Homo sapiens: one gene and its partner. The protein of the gene in region 1 interacts with the protein of each later gene in a pairwise test. Each region holds a gene or a part of one and is shown on either strand. Other genes may lie near its edges.

Evidence for each region. The genes of interacting proteins can lie anywhere in the genome.
Region 2: the proteins of ACY3 (region 1) and MAP3K8 interact in a two-hybrid assay, tested with the Homo sapiens proteins (one large-scale study listed by BioGRID and IntAct).

What each region holds. Positions count from the first base shown.
Region 1 is NC_000011.10:67,644,893-67,647,730, reverse strand, and holds part of ACY3 (N-acyl-aromatic-L-amino acid amidohydrolase (carboxylate-forming)), read left to right. Parts: intron 1-107; exon of another isoform or gene 108-141; 5' UTR 142-215; intron 216-667; 5' UTR 668-687; coding exon 688-923; intron 924-1,269; coding exon of another isoform or gene 1,270-1,290; intron 1,291-1,843; coding exon 1,844-2,039; intron 2,040-2,350; coding exon 2,351-2,444; intron 2,445-2,578; coding exon 2,579-2,686; intron 2,687-2,838. UniProt on the Homo sapiens protein: Plays an important role in deacetylating mercapturic acids in kidney proximal tubules. Also acts on N-acetyl-aromatic amino acids.
Region 2 is NC_000010.11:30,451,184-30,454,683, reverse strand, and holds part of MAP3K8 (mitogen-activated protein kinase kinase kinase 8), read right to left. Parts: intron 3,047-3,500; coding exon 2,940-3,046; intron 1-2,939.

The DNA.
Region 1 (2,838 bases):
TAGCAGCGTGGGGCGGGCGGGGCAGGAGCAGTGGAGCAGACCCCAGCACTCCGACCTTTGGCTGCATGAACCTCAGCCCGTCCCACCCACCCCCTGCTGTCTGCCAGCTTGCCACAAAACTTCCCATCTGTGGATCTCCAGGCCCATGAATACCAGCCTGTCTGCGAGTTAGACGCCAGTCCTGGTGGCCCGGGAAGCCCAGATCCGCATCAGCGGTAAGTACCCCCTGACCTGAGACCCCTGCACCAGCTGGGAGGAGCAAGCAGGAGGGGCAGGAAGGCGAGGCTGTTGCCTAGAACCCAGACACTCCACAGCTAACTCTGGTGACACTTTCCACTCCCCACGCTGTGCCTCAGTTTCCCTGTCTATAAAAAGGAGCGCAGTCCTCTTCCTATAGGGAGTGTGCCTTGGTGAACCCATCTTCCTGAACAGTTGGGCCCCTCTTCTCAATTTAGGAAAAAGAAACTTCTTTTCTCCAAAGGAGCAGGAAAATTGTCTCCTCAGAGAAAGGGCCACTGGGGGTGCAGGTGGGACACAGCTGAGACACTCCCAGCTGTCCACACCTCTTGACAGGTGGCTGCCCTGTGGAGCCTCCCACCGCCATCCTTGCCCTGAGCCCAGATCCCTTGCATCGGGGCCAGGGTCTCCTAAGTATGCCCACCCCCAGGTTCTGCACCCCACACCAGCATGTGCTCACTGCCTGTGCCCCGGGAGCCCCTGCGTCGCGTGGCTGTGACTGGGGGCACGCATGGCAACGAGATGTCGGGCGTCTACCTGGCCCGGCACTGGCTGCATGCCCCCGCAGAGCTGCAGAGAGCCAGCTTCTCCGCTGTGCCTGTGCTGGCCAACCCGGCAGCCACATCCGGCTGCCGCCGCTACGTGGACCATGACCTCAACCGCACCTTCACCAGCAGCTTCCTCAAGTGAGTGCTTTTGCCGCCAGGTTGGCCCAGGCAGTTGGGCACCGAGTCCCCACCACAAAACTTCCCTCCCGCCACCAGCAGGGCCCTCCCTGCCTTCACTCCTGCTTCCCCTCTGCCTATGTGGCCCATTCCTCCACGGGACAAACCGAACATTTAGAGAAACCAAGATTGATGTCACCTCCTCCAGGAAGGCCTTCCTGACTGCAAGTTGGTTCAGGACCTCTTCTGGGGATCCCAGACCTAATTCTTCCCTCAGATTAGCCCCACAGGCCATGTTTACTTGTCGTGTGCCCTGATCACTGTTCATGCCTCCTTCCAATGAATAGTCACTGCATCCTATCTCCAGGCCAGGCTCTGGCCAGCTCAGGTGAGAGAATGGGGAATAGGACCAAGGTGTTGGCTTCAAGCTTAATGGGGAGACAGAGGAAGAACCGGGCAACCATAACCCAGGGGGCTAAAGGCAGGGCCGGAGGCTACACAAAGCAGCTAACCTGGCTGAGAGCAGTCAGGGAAGGCTTCCTGGAGGCAATGGTGTCTCAGCCAAGCCCCAAAGGCTGACTAAAAGCTAGCCAGGGGAAGAGAGGTGAGAGGGAGTTTCCACTGGAGGGCCAAGCACAGCACAGGCCTGGGGGTGAGACCAGCATGGTGCTCAGGCAGTGTGGCTGGAATGAGGGCATGAGAGGCAGGCAAGTGGGCAGGCAGGTGGGAGGGCGGGCCAGGCTGAGAGCTTGGATTTTACCGGGAAGTGCAGAGCCAAGAGGGCCACGGGCAGGGGTGGACACAGCCACAACGTCTGAAGGGAAAGCCCTCGCTCGAGCTGCTCAGAGTGGCTCCTGCAGGGCCCCTGCCCCTTTCCCCTTAAACCACTGAAGACTGACTGAGACTGTGAAGATCGGTGTCCCCCATTCCCGTCTCCACAGTTCCAGGCCCACCCCGGACGACCCATATGAGGTGACAAGAGCCCGAGAGCTGAACCAGCTGCTGGGGCCCAAGGCCTCGGGCCAGGCCTTTGACTTTGTCCTTGACCTGCACAACACCACGGCCAACATGGGCACCTGCTTAATCGCGAAGTCCTCCCACGAAGTCTTTGCCATGCACCTGTGCCGCCATCTGCAGGTGGCCCCGGCCCCAAGCACACAGCTCCCCAGAGGGGAGTGGGAGGGAGGGAGGGCAGGCGGGACAATGCTGGAACCTCCTTTGCTTAGCCCCTCTTCCCCGGGCCTAGTTTCCCCTGGGCTCCAGTCCCTGGGGTCTGCCACTCGCCAGCACTCCAGGCCCCCGGTACCCCCTCCCCTACCCTGCCAGAGGGTAGAGGGAGACCTGGCCAAGGAGGGTGGTGCCCTGTGTTTCCTCCATGCAACACCTTCCCACCTCAGTTTCCCTTCCCAAGTAGGCCTGGGCCCCTAACCTGCCTCTCTCGCCCCCAGCTGCAGTACCCCGAGCTGTCCTGCCAGGTCTTCCTGTACCAGCGGTCTGGGGAGGAGAGCTACAACCTGGACTCTGTGGCCAAAAATGGACTGGGTGGGCCGCAGCCTTCTGAGAAGTGGGCGGGGCCAGGAGGGCTGGAGGGGCGGGTCCAGTCACCAAGGGGCAGGGCCTCTTCAAGGAGTATATGGGTCCTGCACCTGCCTAACCCCTTGCTTCCTGGTCCCCAGGTCTGGAGCTGGGCCCCCAGCCACAGGGTGTGCTGCGGGCTGACATTTTCTCAAGGATGAGGACCCTGGTGGCCACAGTTCTGGACTTCATCGAACTCTTCAACCAGGGTGAGACCCCAGGGGACTTTCGGGAAACAGGTCCGGGGAAGAGCAGGTCTGGCTCAGGGGTTGGGGAGCCAGGCTCACAGGCAGGCTGGGATCTAGCCCTGACGTACCCCCACGGCCCAGTCTGTCCCCTAGCCTGGAGGGAGGGATGGGCT
Region 2 (3,500 bases), on another chromosome or scaffold:
TCAATAATAACTTCAGTAATATTCACAAAAGCAAGGATTTCTTCTGCTGCCCGGGAGAGTGCTGGCTTTGAGAGAGTTGAGAAAGGACTTACAGAATCTTGGCGTTTTTTTTTTTTTTAGGACAAGGTCTTGTTCTATTTTCCAGGCTATGGGTGCAGTGGCATAATCACAGCTCACTGCAGCCTCATCCTGGGCTCAAGCAATCCTCCCACCTCAGTCTCTTGAGTAGCTGGGACTACAGACATGCACCACCATGCCATTTTTACAAAAAGTAAAGTTTTTGTTTGTTTGTTTGTTTACTTTTTGTAGCGATGGGGTCTCACTATGTTGCCCAGGCTGGAAGAATCTGGTTTGAAAGGAAGACAATTTTTTTGTGGCTGCAATCCAGTTCAGTGCAACACGTATACTAGCTAGACTAGACTAAGGGTTGTCATCTGATTGAACACCAAGACTGACCTGGTAATCCTGACATAGAGGTGCAGCCAAAGACCCTCTCTCTATTTCCTATGGGCACTTCCAGCAAAGAGAAGGGCATGGGGCTGAGTGGCTCAGGCAGTGCAGCTTCCCCCGGTAGTGGTGAGGGGCCAAGGAGGCAGCTTTTACACCCATTTACCTTCCTGCTTGCATCCAACCTTGTGCCCATCACAATCAACTGTGAACTAAACTGTTGTGCATGCTTTCTTTCTTTCTTTCCTTCTTTTTCTTTCCTTCCTTCCTTTTTCTTTCTCCTTCCTTCCTTCCTTCCTTCCTTCCTTCCTTCCTTCCTTCTCTCTCTCCCTCCCTCCCTTCCTTCTTTTTTTCTTTTTTTTTTTCAAAAGAGATGAGGTCTGACTCTATTGCTCAGGCTGGTCTCGAACCCCCAGGCTCAAGCAAACCACCCCCACCTCCTTGGCCTTTCGAACGGTTGGGATTACAGGTGTGAGAACACCACGCCCATCCCTAAACGGTTGCTCTTTTAATAATTCAGGTAATTTAAAGTAAGTCCTCCCACCAAAGAGTGAGGATCGCTGGAGTACCACTAAGGCTTGCTCCTCACTGCCTTGTGTCATGCTTCCTCGTTGGTGCTCACAAGAACCTGCCACATAGCAGATGCCCAGTGGACACTGGCTAATTGAATCACCCAGTCAGCCTAATGATGTGAATGTTAAATACATTACTTGGAAGCCCGCGAACGCATTTTTCAGAATCTCATTTAGAGTCAGGAAAGAAAGGCTTTTCTGGGTCGTTTTTTGCTTCACAGATGAGTTAAACATGAGTGCTGTTTTACATCTTTAAATAAGATACATTTATGCTCACTACTTGAGGTTTATTATAGAATTCCTAGGCTCAAAGAGAGGCCTTTAGAGTCCTCATAAATATTAATGACCATAGTTAAGACTGTCATTGAGCCAAAACTCAGTGATATTAGTTATATCACTAATATATTTTAATAATGTATGTAATATTATAATTTTTTAAAGTTATGTAGCAGTTAGACCTTAGGGTTAGACTTAGAAAGAACTGGGTTCAAGTCCAGGGTCTGTCACTGAGTGACTCTGGACACTTTATTTTAATCTCTGCAAACTTATTTCCTTGATTGTAAAATAAGAATAACAATAGCAACAACTGGGTTGTTGTAAGGATTAAATAACATACTGCTTTTTAAGTGCTAAACTTATTATAAAGTTAACTCTAATTCTATAATTATTATTAAAGCTGAACTGTGGGCCAGACACGGGGGCTCAAACCTGTAGTCCCAGCACTTTGGGAGGCTGAGGTGGGAGGATCACTTGAGGCCAACAGTTCATGACCAGCCTGGCCAACATAGTGAAACCTGCATCTCTACTGAAAAAAAAAAAAAATTAGCTGGATGTGGTGGCACATGCCTGTAATCTCAACTACTCAGGAGACTAAGAAGCGCTTGAACCCAGGAGGTGGAGATTACAGTGAGCTGAGATCATGCGCCACTGTCCTACAGCCTGGGCGATGGAGCAAGACTCTGTCTCAAAAACAAAAACAAAAACACACAAAATAAAGCCGAACTGTGGATATGATCTATTTTGGGGGGCTTTTTTTTTTTTTGAAGCAACATCTCGTTCTGTCATCCAGGCTGGAATGCCCATGGCTCACTGCAGCCTTGAACTCCTGGGCTCAAGCAATCCTCCTACCTCAGCCTCCCAACTAGCTGAGACTACAGGCGTGTACCACCACACTGAGCTAATTTTTTTTTTTTTTGAGATGGAGTTTCACTCTTGTTGCCCAGGCTGGAGTGCAATGGCACGATCTCGGCTCACCTCAACCTCTGCCTCCTGAGTTCAGATGATTCTCCTCCCTCAGCCTCCCGAGTAGCTGGGATTACAGGTGCCCGCCACCACGCCTGGTTAATTTTGTATTTTTAGTAGAGACGGGGTTTCTCCATGTTGGTCAGGCTTGTCTCAAACTCCCGACCTCAGGTGATCCGCCCATCTCAGCCTCCCAAAGTGCTGGGATGACAGGTTTGAGCCACCGTGCCCAGCCTAAACCAGTTTTTTTTTATAGAGATGGGGTCTTGCTATGATGCCTAAGCTTGTCTCAAAGTCCTGGGCTCAATTGATCCTCCCACCCCAGCCTCCCAAAGCACTGGGATTACAGGCATTAGCCACCACACCTGGCCAATGTGATCTATTTTGACATGACATTGTGTACAAATGTTCTATATTATATATATCAACATGTATATTATATTACAAATACTATTATGTATTATAAATAACATAGCAAAAAATACAATAAAAAATCAAGTGCTAAACTTAGTACTTGACACAGAGCAAGTGCTCATTAAATGTGTTCCAAGGAAAATAATGATTTAATGCAGTGGGTTTCTTCCCCTTCTTTGTCCTTCGTTCCCACAATAATTCTAGAACATTTTTTCCTTTTTATTCTTAATAAAATAGTAACCCTTTTCATGTGAACATAATTACCTCTGTTCCTCGGAGGTCCTTAGGAAAATAGACATCTTCGGTCATTTGAACACTTAGGCCAAAATCCACCAAAACAGCTTTTGTGGACATGAAAACAATGTTGCTAGCTAAAATGAGAGGAAATATTTTTAAGATAAAATTTTTTATATACCCATAAGTCAAATGAAAACATTATCTAAAACAATAATGAATCTCCAATCAGAAAAGACTGAAATGCTTCCTCTAGTGAGATGGTTGTATTATATTCAAAAGAGGAGAATGAAATTCAGAGTTGAGGTGAAAATCACTTTGGATCCATCAAGAATACAGCCAATGTGGGTATGAATGATTGTAGCCATTAATAATGTTCAAGAACTTGAATTTCAAACTCTAAGACATAAGCATACTGTTGTCAAGCCACTTTTCTAAAACAGAAAAGTAAAATACCCATCTTTTTTCCCAGTGAAAGTTGTGCCACTCTAATTTAGTACTGGCTATTAAAGGTTTACCTATTTCCTCATCATATCAGACTCCTAGAAAACAGTTAGTAAAGGTGTGTTTAATGGATTATTGTTACATTGG